Homo sapiens: one gene and its partner. The main gene of each other region encodes a partner of the protein of the gene in region 2 in a complex. Each region holds a gene or a part of one and is shown on either strand. Other genes may lie near its edges. A codon is read from its position in the direction of its gene.

What was found.
Region 1: the proteins of RPA1 (region 2) and DNA2 are in contact, whole or in part, in a crystal structure (PDB 5EAY), measured with the Homo sapiens proteins. Residues at the interface, in NP_002936.1 of Homo sapiens: Asn29, Ile30, Arg31, Ile33, Arg41, Arg43, Leu44, Leu45, Ser54, Ser55, Met57, Asn85, Leu87, Lys88, Arg91, Val93, Ile95; in NP_001073918.2 of Homo sapiens: Glu6 (codon at 2,876), Leu7 (codon at 2,873), Glu8 (codon at 2,870), Leu10 (codon at 2,864), Met11 (codon at 2,861), Lys13 (codon at 2,855), Ser14 (codon at 2,852), Phe15 (codon at 2,849), Trp16 (codon at 2,846).

Annotation. Positions count from the first base shown.
Region 1 is NC_000010.11:68,468,974-68,475,877, forward strand, and holds the start of DNA2 (DNA replication ATP-dependent helicase/nuclease DNA2), read right to left. Parts: upstream 3,001-6,904; 5' UTR 2,913-3,000; coding exon of another isoform or gene 2,892-2,912; coding exon 2,818-2,891; intron 1,191-2,817; coding exon 1,008-1,190; intron 1-1,007. UniProt on the Homo sapiens protein: Key enzyme involved in DNA replication and DNA repair in nucleus and mitochondrion.
Region 2 is NC_000017.11:1,895,689-1,900,790, reverse strand, and holds the end of RPA1 (replication protein A 70 kDa DNA-binding subunit), read right to left. Parts: intron 3,721-5,102; coding exon 3,616-3,720; 3' UTR 709-3,615; downstream 1-708. UniProt on the Homo sapiens protein: As part of the heterotrimeric replication protein A complex (RPA/RP-A), binds and stabilizes single-stranded DNA intermediates that form during DNA replication or upon DNA stress.

The DNA of each region.
Region 1 (6,904 bases), on a different chromosome or scaffold from region 2:
CAGGAAGCGGAGGTTGCAGTGAGCCGCGATCACGCCATTGCACTCTAGCCTGGGCGACAGAGCAAGACTCCGTCTCCAAAAACCACAACAACAAAAAACAAATTAATTCACGGCTTAGACGAAGAGTCAAAGTTAGACCTCTAGCTTTTCTGCATCTACACTCCACCCCTCACATACCACACTTTGGGTAGAGAAATCTAAGGCCTAAGAATGTCCATATGTTTTAATTAATTTTGCTTTTAGTTAAAACTAACATGTGTTTAAACTGCAATCTTAGAATGTACTGGGAAGGCCGGGCGCGGTGGCTCACGCCTGTAATCCCACCACTTTGGGAGGCCGAGGTGGGCGGATCACGAGGTCAGGGGATTCGAGACCATCCTGGCTAACATGGTGAAACCCTGTCTCTACTAAAAATACAAAAAAAAAAAAAAAAAAAAGAATGTACTGGGAAATAGGAAGTAGTCATTAATAAGGTCCTTTGTACGTGATTTTCTTTTCTTTTTTTTGAGATGAAGTTTCGCTCTTGTTGCCTAGGCTGGAGTGCAATGGCATGATCTCAGCTCACCACAACCTCCACCTCCCAGGTTCAAGCAATTCTCCTGCCTCAGCCTCCAGAGTACCTGGGATTACAGGCAAGTGCCACCATACCCAGCTAATTTTTTTTTATTTTTAGTAGAGACTGGGTTTCTCCATGTTGGTCAGGCTGGTCTCAAACTCCTGACCTGAGGTGATCCGCCTGCCTTGGCCTCCCAAAGTGCTGGGATTACAGGTGTGAGCCACCATGCCTGGCCCACGTGATTTTCAAATGACAACAAAAGTCAATTTTTGGAATATGAGACTTGAGATACAGGAGTAATAGATACAATTTTCATGCAGAATTAGGCTAAGATCAAACCTACTCCCTTTTAAACAATTAAATTATAGTAACATTCACAGAAGCCATTTGATGAGTTTTACGACAGTACCCTTAAGATTCAAATCGGTGCTCAAAGTCACATAAAAATTACCAGTCATTCCTAAGGATGCATAGTTCTTTATTTTCTAGTGACTGTGAAGCAGTGATGACCAGGCGCTTTTCACAGTTTCCCTCTTTGTTCTGTACAGTATTGACTGCCAACACCAGGTACCGGTTATCCATTCCTGTGCTCAGAACTGTTCTTGGAAAGGAAGCTACCACTTTCTTCTGAAATCTAAAGCACACACATACAAAACTATTTTAGCACAACCATGAAATAAGAAGCCATCCAATATGTTTTATCTACAAACCAATCTTCCAGTTTTCTAGGTTTCTTTCTTCTGAAAAGCTTATTGCAATGACATTTAGACAAAATAGGTAAAATTAAGAGAGCAAAGACACAGAAGAATTCCTATTATAAAAACTTCCCAGAAGTAATGCCATTTCAAACATGCTCATGATATGAGATTTTCCATTTTAATTTCTGTAAAGCGTTCTGTGGGACACTCATTACAATGAGGATTAAGAATAAACTGGAAGCCAGGCATGATGGCGCACACCTGTAGTCCCAGCTACTCAAGAGGCTGAGGTGGAAGGACTGCTTGAGCCCAGGAGTTTGAGGCTGCAGTGAGATACGATCATGCTACTGCACCCCTTCCTGAGCGACAGAAAAAGACCCCGGTTCTGGCGGAGAAAAAAGAAAGGAAAGTATAAATTGGACAACATTAAACAAGAAATTTCTACCACTGGTGCAAGCCTTCCCAAAGTACAAGTAAAAGGAGATGTTTTGGACACGATCCTTTTTGTAAATATGAGACTTATGTTACGGAAAAGGGTATTGTCCGTGGTTCACTGAAAGTCCTATCATGAGCCACAGAATTGTACTTAGAAATAATTTAGTCCAACCTGCTAAAGTAATGCCGGAAATCTTTCGATAAAATCTCACTGGACAGAAAGCAGGCTTAATACCTATCGATTTAGCTCAATCCTTTACAGAGTAATTCAGAACTTTATTACTTATATTTATAGTGGGTAAGTCAATTTGTCAATACTTTCATCCATCGGTCCAAGCTGTCTAAAATTATGCAAAATAATAATCTCTCAAGAAAACAGCCCTTCTCCTATTAAGTACCTCTTAAGTCTTCCCCGTTTGACTGAGGCATCAGTGAGGGACCAAAGGAGGGTCCAAAGTCATTACCTCTCCAGTGATAACACCAAACGCCTTTCACATTACACTGCAAGTTATCTTTTGTTACCTGACCGTAGGTTCTATTATTTTGCAAACGCTTTATTCCTGTAGTCCACCTAACCTCAGGCCATGAATTTCGCAAGATTGGCTATGATGCCTTAAAGATGTTTCTCAAAAGGTATTGCTGATCAAAAGCCCAAACGCAAAAGTCCCTCAACGCTAATTAGCATTATTGCTATAATATTGAAAGTAATTCCACATTATGACCGTGGTTAACTTCCTCTGATCATTTATATACACCATGCTGAGGGTGCAGAGATCCCCCAAGGATAAGTTAATCCAACTAAACATCGAGAAAAGCCTACGGCGGTTGCAATTTCCTATTATAAAAACATTCCAGTGGCCGAAACTCCTCAACTTAGGGAGAGAGGTGAAATCAAGGGAAACAATGAACTGCTCGGCGAGGGAGAGTCCAGGCTCTGGCTGAATGTGGCCCCAAAGAACACCTTGGGAGGCAGGCCCCGACTCCGGAGGCTCGTCGGGTGCCCAGGGAGCTGCACCGGGTCCCTGGGCCCCGGGCCCGGTCAGTCTGAGGCGGTGCGGACGCAGCCTCTCCCGCTCCTTCTTTCAAATCTCCCGCTTTGTTCCCACACCCTCCCCCCTCTCCGCTCACAGCTCCGCCGGCAGCTCCGCCTCCTCCCAAAAACTCTTCTCCATCAGCAGCTCCAGTTCGTTCAGCTGCTCCATCCTGGACGCGGGGATCGCAAACTGTAGACAGAAAAGACAGCGGAACCGGGGGTAACACAGAAAGCTTAGAAAAGGGAAAAAGGCGCGAGCCTGCGCACCTCGCGCGCATGCGCCAACCCGCAGATGTCCCAAATGACCTGCGCCAGGCCGCCCCTCCCGCGCCGGCGCGTTCCACGTGGGGCCCCTCACCTGAGCAGCAGGGCTCTGTCCCCTGCCTTTGCTCCCTTGCTTAGGACTGGGAATACAGGGAGTCTTCATATCTGAAGCAGACTAAACGCTCCTGCCTTCTCTCTTGACACTCCAACCCGTGTCCGAAACCTCCCGGGTTCACACCATTCTCCTGCTTCAGCCTCCCAAGTAGCTGGGACTACAGGCGCCCAGCTTAGTTTGAACACAACCTTTACACGCTTAGTTTGAACACAACCACATTTGTAGTTGCCCAAAACCAGGCGCCCCTGGTTAGCCTTCAGAATTGTGCACTCCCTGGGAAACAGCCTCTCCCCTTTTTTTCAGAAAACTTATTGAGAAAATAGAAACTGTCGGATAGGAACTCCTTGATCATGCCACGGCTAAATCTACAAAACTTCTGGCCAGGCATGGAGGCTCACGCCTGTAATCCCAGCACTTCGGAAGGCTGAGGCGGGAGGATCACGAGGTCAGCAGTTGAGACCAGCCTGGCCAACATGGTGAAACGCCATCTCTACTAAAAATACAAAAATTAGCCGGGCGTGGTGGCATGCGTCTGTAATCCCAGCTACTCGGGAGGAGGCTGAGGTAGAATAAATTGAACACGGGAGGTGGAGATTGCAGATCCTGCAACGGCACTCCAGCCTGGGTAGAGCGAGACTCCGTCTCCAAAAAAAAAAATTCTACAAAACTTCTAATATCTGCACCATTCTTCATAACCTCTTTCCACCTTTTTTCAATAGCAGACAAAGTGTTCTTCTGGTTAAAGGGCAATCGCTCCACTTGCACTTGGCATCCCAGGGCTTCAAGCATTCTCAAGGGCATCGCTTCTTCAATTATTCTCTTGTATCATCAGCCTCGCCCTCACTATTGGATTGAGCCTCTAATATGGCCTGGTGTCTCCCATTTTTAAAAGATGTTTCCTTGCTGGGCACAGTGGTGTGCACCGATTTTTGATATTTATATACTTCTCTCATCTGGAGGCACTGACAAGAACATCCAGAGCCATGTTAAATATCAGTGGTATAACTGTTATCCTGATTTTTGTTATTCATTTTTTAAATAGATAAAATGCGCCGGGTGCCCGGTGGCTCAGGCCTGTAATCCCAACACCTTGGGAGGCCGAGGCGGGTGAATCACTTGAGGTCAGGAGGTCAAGACCAGCCTGGCCAACATGGTGAAACCCAGTCTCTACTAAAAATATAAAAATTAGCCGGGTGTGGTGGTGCACTCCTGTAATCTCAGCTACTCAGAAGACCGAGGCAGGAGAATCACTTGAGCCTGGAAGGCAGAGGTTGCAGTGAGCTGAGATCACACCACTGTACTCCAGCCTAGGTGAAAGAGTGACTCAGTCTAAAAGAAAAAAAAAATTGGCAAAAAGTTAATATATTTATCATGTACATGGGCTTTCAAATATGTACACACTGGAATGGGAGTTATTCTATTAGTATTTGTCCCTGATATCAACAGCTTTATGACCTACCTTTGCAAGTGATATAACATCACGGTAGTCACAGGCCCACTCAGCCAGATTCAAGGGAAGGGGAACACAGTTCCTACCTCTTGATGGGATGAGTGTCAACGACACATAAGAAAAGCATATGGGGCCTGGTGGCTCACGCCTGTAATCTCATCACTTTGGGAGGCTGAGGCGGAAGGATCATCTGAGGTTAGGAGTTTGAGACCAGCCTGGCCAACATGGCAAAACCCCATCTCTACTAAAAATACAAAAATTAGCCAGACATGGTGGCGCATGCCTGTGATCTCAGCTACTTGGGAGGCTGAGACAGGAGAATCGCTTGGACCTGGGAGGCAGGGGTTACAGTGAGCAAGATTGTGCCACCGCACTCCAGCCTGGGCAACAGCGAGAATCCATCTAAAAAAAAAAATAAAACCATATGAATTGGGATGTGTTCTGGTCATTGTTGGAAAGTATAAAGGTATACTCTGCCAAAATGTCCTTTATTAGATTGAGGAAGACCCCTTTGTTCTAAATATGATTCATTTTGATAACGAATAAATGCTGGATTTTGTCAAGCAGTTATTGCATCTATAGAAGGACTGTATGGTTTTTCTCCTTTATTCTGTTATTATGAGAAGCTTTACCATTGATTTCACAATGTTAAAAAAAACTTTGCATTCCTAGGATAAACCCAAATTGGTCATGACATAATAAACGTTTTATGTATTACTGGATTTGATTTGCTCTGTTGTTAAGAATTTTTCCATCTGTTGGTTTTTTGGTTGTTTTGTTTCTTGAGACAGGAACTTGCTCTGTCACCCAGGCTGTAGTGCTGTGGCACAATGACAGCTCACTGCAGCCTCGATCTGCCAGGCTCAAGTGATTCTCCCCTATCAGCCTCTCAAGTAGCTGAGACTACAGGAGTGTGCCATCACACCCAGCTAATTTATTTTTTTATTTTTAGTAGACACAAGCTCTTGCTGTGTTGCCCAAGCTGGTCTTGAACTCCTAAGCTCAAGCAATCCTCTCAACTCAGCCTCCCAAAGTGCTGGGATTATGGGTGTGAACCACCAAACCCAGCCCATCTAAGTTCTTGAAGGATACTGATTTGTAATTTTCTGTTTTATAACAGCATTGTGGGGTTTGGGTATCAGGGTTATACTGGCATCATAAAATGAGTTGGGAAGTGCTCTCTTCTAATTTCTAGAAGTTTCTGAGATTATTCCTTAGCTATTTAGTACACTTCACTACCTAGCCCTGGGGTTTTCTTTGTGGAAAGGTTTTTTTTTTTTTTTTTTGAGACGGAGTCTCGCTCTGTCACCCAGGCTGGAGTGCAGTGGCGTGATCTCGGCTCACTGCACACTCCACCTCCCGGGTTCACACCATTCTCCTGCTTCAGCCTCCCAAGTAGCTGGGACTACAGGCACCCACCACCACACCCGGGTAATCTTTTGTATTTTTAGTAGAGATGGGGTTTCACCGTGTTAGCCAGGATGGTCTCGATCTCCTGACCTTGTGATCCGCCCGCCTCGACCTCCCAAAGTGCTGGGATTACAGGCATGAGCCACCGTGCTTGGCCACTGCCGTATCTTTTTAAATGAAAGTACTTGTGTTTTTTTTGTTTTTTTTCAAAGGATATCTGGGTCATCTATGATGTTACTGTTACCATCTAAGGGTTTTTTTGTTTGTTTTTGAGACAGAGTCTCTGTCACCCAGGCTGGAGTGCAGTGGCATGATCTTGGCTCACCACAACCTCCACCTCCTAGGTTCAAGCAATTCTCCTGCCTCAGCCTTTCAAGTAGCTGGGATTACAGGCATGTGCCACCACGCCCAGCTAATTTTGTATTTTTAGTAGAGACGAGGTTTCTCCATGTTGGTCAGGGTAGTCTCGAACTCCCAACCTCAGGTGATCCACCCGCCTCAGCCTCCCAAAGTGTTGGGATTGCAGGCGTGAGCCACCACGCCCGGCCCTCAATTTCTTAATTTTTTGAGACAGGGTCTCACTCTGTCACCCAGACTGGAATGCAGTACTGCAATAACAACTCACTGTAGCCTTGACCTCCCTAGACTCAGTTGATCCTCCTACCTCAGCCTCCCAAGTAGCTGAGACTATAGGTGCACATCACTATGTCCAGGTATATTTTTAAAAGCAGACACAGGGTCTCACTATGTTGTTTGGGCTGGTCTCAAAATCCTGGGCTCAAGTGATCCTCCCATTTTGGCCTCCCAAAGTGCTGGGATTACAGGCATGAACCACTACGCCTGGCCTCACTTTCTTTAATTGGCTACACAGATTTTCTGTTTCATCTATGTCAGTCTTGGTTGAATTTTTCAAGGTATTTTTCCATTTCATATAAATTGTCAA
Region 2 (5,102 bases):
TTTTTGAGATAGGGTCTCGCTCTGTCGCCCAGGCTGGGGTGCAGTGGTGCAATCATGGCTCACTGCAGCCTTGACCTCCCACGGCTCAGGTGATTCTCCCACCTCAGCCTCCCAGGTAGCTGGGACTACAGGTGTGTGCCACCACGCCCAGCTAATTTTTATTTTTTTGTAGGGACGGGGGTCTCCTTATGTTACCCAGGCTGGTCTCGAACTCCTTGGCTCAAGCGATTTGCCCGCCTCAGCCTCCCAAAGTGTTGGGATTATAGGCATGAGCCACTGTGCCAGGCCAATTTTGTTTTTCTTAACTGTAGATTATTTTCCTAAAATAAACATGGAGGCCGGGCGCGGTGGCTCACACCTGTAATCCCAGCACTTTGGGAGGCCGAGGCAGGTGGATCACAAGGTCAGGAGTTCGAGACCATCCTGGCTAACACGGTGAAACCCCGTCTCTACTAAAAATACAGAAAATTAGCCAGGCATGGTGGCACATGCCTGTAGTCCCAGCTACTCAGGAGGCTGAGGCAGAATCGCTTGAACCTGGGAGGCGGAGGTTGCAGTGAGCTGAGATCGTGCCACTGCACTCCAGCCTGGGTGACAGAGCAAGACTCCGTCTCAAAATAAATAAACAAACAAACAAACAAATATGATTACTTGCATAAGAAAGTCAATAGTCCAAATTATCCTTTTTTTTCTTAAACATTTACTTAATGTCTTAATAACAAAAATACCAGTTTTTTTGAATAAGTGAAAATTAAACATCTATGCTCTCTTTTTGAGGAACCGATGACTTCCAAAGGTGTTTATAAAAGCCAGAACTCTACCAGCGGAGTGGATATAAGACTAAGAGTTAACAAACCACATAAAAGGTGGCCGGGGAGTGGGGGGAATCTTCCCTTTGAGACAAGGAAACAATCAGTTTACTAGGGGAATAGTGGCCTTCTAACAGGTGAAAAGAAGAAAAGGAGACCAAACAACCTGTTTCATCCTCTATAAATAAAACCTTGGGCGGCATATTGCCAAAGAAACATGAGTCAATATAAACCTTTACATACTGGGCGGCCAAACTTCACTTTTGGACAGTATATTAATTATGTAGTCAATAACCATGGGTTTCATTAGTGTATTAAATACCACGATCAATAGTATTTATACTTTTTGAAGACAGCCCACTCAGGAAACAGAAGTGGGGGAGGGGAACATTTTTGACCCTGCAGTTCAAAAAAGGAACAGCACGCGAGAGATTAGCAAGGTTTTAATGGAAAGCATAAAACACTGGAAATATGGACAGAAATCAGATTATTACCCTTTTATTTTTTTCCCTGCCCCTTTCACAATGAGACTGGAGGGAATTCAAGAACCACTTGAAATAAAGGCGAAATGATTAGATTTTTTTCTCCTAATTGCCTAACGCTGATGTCATGGTGTACGCAAAATCAACATTGATCTCTAAGTGAAAGAGGAGAAACAGAACAACATCAACAGCCTTTCGAGGTAAACTGTGGGCCAGAATCTATTTAGGCAACCCGCAGGGACCAAAATCTCTGAAAAGCCCAACAGTGGAGCCAGTTTCTGATGCTCCTCTGCTGGTGATCTGATCTTTGAGTGGGGAAATCTGTTAGAAACAGCCTCCTCGAGGGAGCCCTCCCCCTGGCACTGCCCCTGGGTTCCCAATCACATCCACGGAGACGTGCTGGTTTCATCACGCTGGCCACTGAGAAGGCGCGAGGACAGGTGTCAGCGTTCCCTGGACACGTCCTGTCCTGGTACCACGGCTGGTCAGGCCTCTTCACTGTGTGGACAGACACGTGGGGAGAGGAGGGAATGCTGGGAGTAGTAGGCATGAAAGACTGGTTACTGGGCTGAAAGCTAGATCGCCACTTCCCAGCCACAATTTGTCAATCCAGAAGAGGGTTGAAGACTGTAATTTTCTCGTCGATGCTTTATAAGCAAGGTCAGACAGAAAAGAACTTCCGTAAAAATGGCTGAGGCCTCAGTCAGAGACTGAAATGCGACCCAGTTACCATCTCCTGAGACTAGAGAAGGGTAGGAAGGAATGTGTCTAAACAATTAGTGAGGCTGAGCAGGAGTCCCTCTGTGTCTGTCCTCAGGAACGGAAGTCATCCCGTCTAGGGCTGGCTGGCCCCTATGTCAACGGCAGACACCGAGGGGGGAGACAGACAGGACACCATCACTCCCCATATCCAAAAGCCTCCGCAGGCGGCATGTGCAGTGATGAACAGCAGGTCCTCTGGCTGCAGAGTGACCGCCGCACTGCCGGGGTACGACGGCGAGATGTGCGGCCAATGGCAGGCGGTGTGTTGCAGCCACCGGATAGATAATTAATATGATTAGGAACACACAGAGCGAGCATGCTTTTGCTGACTGAAAGGCCCACTAGCATAATTACTGTTTTCTTACCAGCTCACTGTCTGTACACATTTCAAAGCGTGGTTGGTGTTAGACTGCTGCGTAAACATCAATAAAATCCCAAGTGCCAGATCATCAGCATCCTCAGGCAAAATGGCTTTTTGTTTTTAGTGTTTTCATGCTTTGAAAGATGCATTTCAGGGCTGCAAACACTAGGAAGAAGGATCTCCATGCCTTGGACTAATCTTCGGGTTTATAATGAGTTAACATCCCCCCCAAGTGAACATTTATTATGAAGGCTAATTAATTGCTTTCCAGTTATAGGAACTCTTTGCATTCAAAGAAAGTAGGATTCACAACCAAAGAATATACTGTTTATTAAAACAAAGCAAGGGAAACAAAAGGCTTCAAAATCCTTTCCATGTAACATAGCTTTAGTCAAAAAAAACAAAATACATGAATGCAGGAATGTGTACAGGTAGAAAAAGTACGCACTCACCAAGCGAAGCGCAGCATTAATTGAAGTGAGAAGTAAAGAAACGCTTTGTAGCCGCTCGGATTTCCTTAGGGGACGGCAAGTCAATGCTTATCAGCGGTCCTCAGAAGAGACAATTTTGATTAATATCAGACCCATCTGACTCAGTCTATTAAACCCTGAAGGAAGGATACTCTTCAGATATAGAAGATATGCCTTTGATTAATCATTCTACCCTATTGCCATTCCAAGCATTACCAACTATGTAGCACCTCTAGAAAGAGAGAGCCTTCGAATTCTAGGAAGACACACTTACTAAAATCCCCAGGTGCTCATGACCGCTTCTCAGCTCGCCCCGCTGAGAAGAACCCAAGTTGTGAGCGGGGATGGGGGGGGGTGGTCACCACTGGAGAAGCAAAAACCTAGTTACATAATTTACTTCATGGTCTGCAGTTAGGGTCAGTGACTTACGACATAATTCCTGCTTGATGATAATGAAATTGACAGAAGCCTGAAGGCAGAGGGAGTGACTGGTCTTGCGCTAGCCACTGGCTGACTCCGTAGGCCTGACACAGTCTACACCACAACCACCTGAGCGTATTTTCCTTTGCCTACCGATGGGTTCTGAGATGCGCACGAGGGGGGAAATTGCTTAGTCCACCATCAAGAGCCTCTGCACTGTGTAGCTAACATGGGATCGTCACACGGAGGTGGGAGGAAATCGATTCCATTCTGCCTATTTGCAAACTTCTGCCCGATTGGCACTGCTCCTCTCACATCAATGCACTTCTCCTGATGCTCATGACCAGCCTTCGGCCATACTCTCTGTAGTCCACGGGCTTCACGTCCATCACAGTGGCCTTAATTCGAGACTCGTCCTTCAAAAAGGGAGAAGTAGTTTGTGAGCAGTGAAAGTGTGGTGTGGAGCAGTGAAACCCCTTTTGCTTCAGTGGTTTCAGTGAGCCCAGCGGGAGGGAACAGACGCACGGGTTCAGAGTTCAGTCATTCCAGTGAGTGACAGCCTCCTCCTGAATGTCTGGGGCTGGGCGAGTGAACAGGTCCTTTCTCCAGCACAGGCCCTTCTGATTCTTTACCCAAGCTCCCAAACACCCAGAAGCCTAGAATCCTAGTGAGATGGACTTTAGAGGGTTTCTCTAGTTTCATTTATTCTCCCTACTGCAGGGGATACAGCCCAGAGAGGACATGTGACTTGCACAAAGCCACACAGCTAGTTCTGAAAGCTAAACTTTCAAACTTTCATTTCAAGAAAAGCTGAGTGGTGAAAGGAAGAGCACCTGCAGCAGAGGGAGAGGACCGAGTCTGTCCTGTCTCAGCTCTGGGGAGGCAGCCTCTCTTCACTTCACCTTCCCTGTCCAGACACGATGGGGCTGAATGGCCCCAAAAATCCCCCCCAGCCCCACCCCACTCCCTGACATTGTTTCACGGTGACATCTGATCCCCTATCTCATTTAATGTTTATAGTAGTCGCAGAAGAACGGGCGTTAAGGTAAATACGTGAGTAAACCCTGCAATCAGCAGGGGCGTTTCTACCACTCCCCCTGCCCACTCGTACGTTTACACTCACGGCCTGAATGGTGCCTTTCCGGGCAGAACGGAGTGATACCCAGGAAGGCTGCACAGGCGAGCTCGGGGCTGTCACACTGCTGTGTGCTTGGTCGGTACTAAATCCCGTGATACTCGTAAGCATGATCAAAAGCAAAGCTCTGAAGTCAGGCTGCCTGGGTTGGACGTTAGCTCGACCACTTGCTAGCATACAACTTAGGCAAGTGACTTGTTCTCTGAATGCCCGTGTCTCTCTGTATGTAATTCCTTCAGTGGCAAAATAGGGTAACCACAGTTTCTACATATAGGGTTACTAGGCTCAAGTGAGATGTTCCACGTAAAGGATGTAGAACAGTTACCTGGCAGACCATGCTCAATACTGTTTGATTATAACTATAACTAAGCTGGGCGCGGTGGCTCATGCCTGTAATCCTGGCACTTTGGGAGGCTGAGGCGGGTGGATCATCTGAGGTCAGGAGTTCGAGACCAGCCTGGCCAACATGGTGAAAACTCCGTCTCTACTAAAAATACAAAAATTAGCCGGGCATGGTGGCGGGCGCCTGTAATCCCAGCTACTCGAGGGGCTAAGGCAGGAGAATCACTTGAACCCGGGAGGCGGAGGTTGTGGTGAGCCAAGATCGTCCCACTGCACTCCAGCCTGGGTGACAGAGACTCTGTCTCAAATAAATAAATAAAT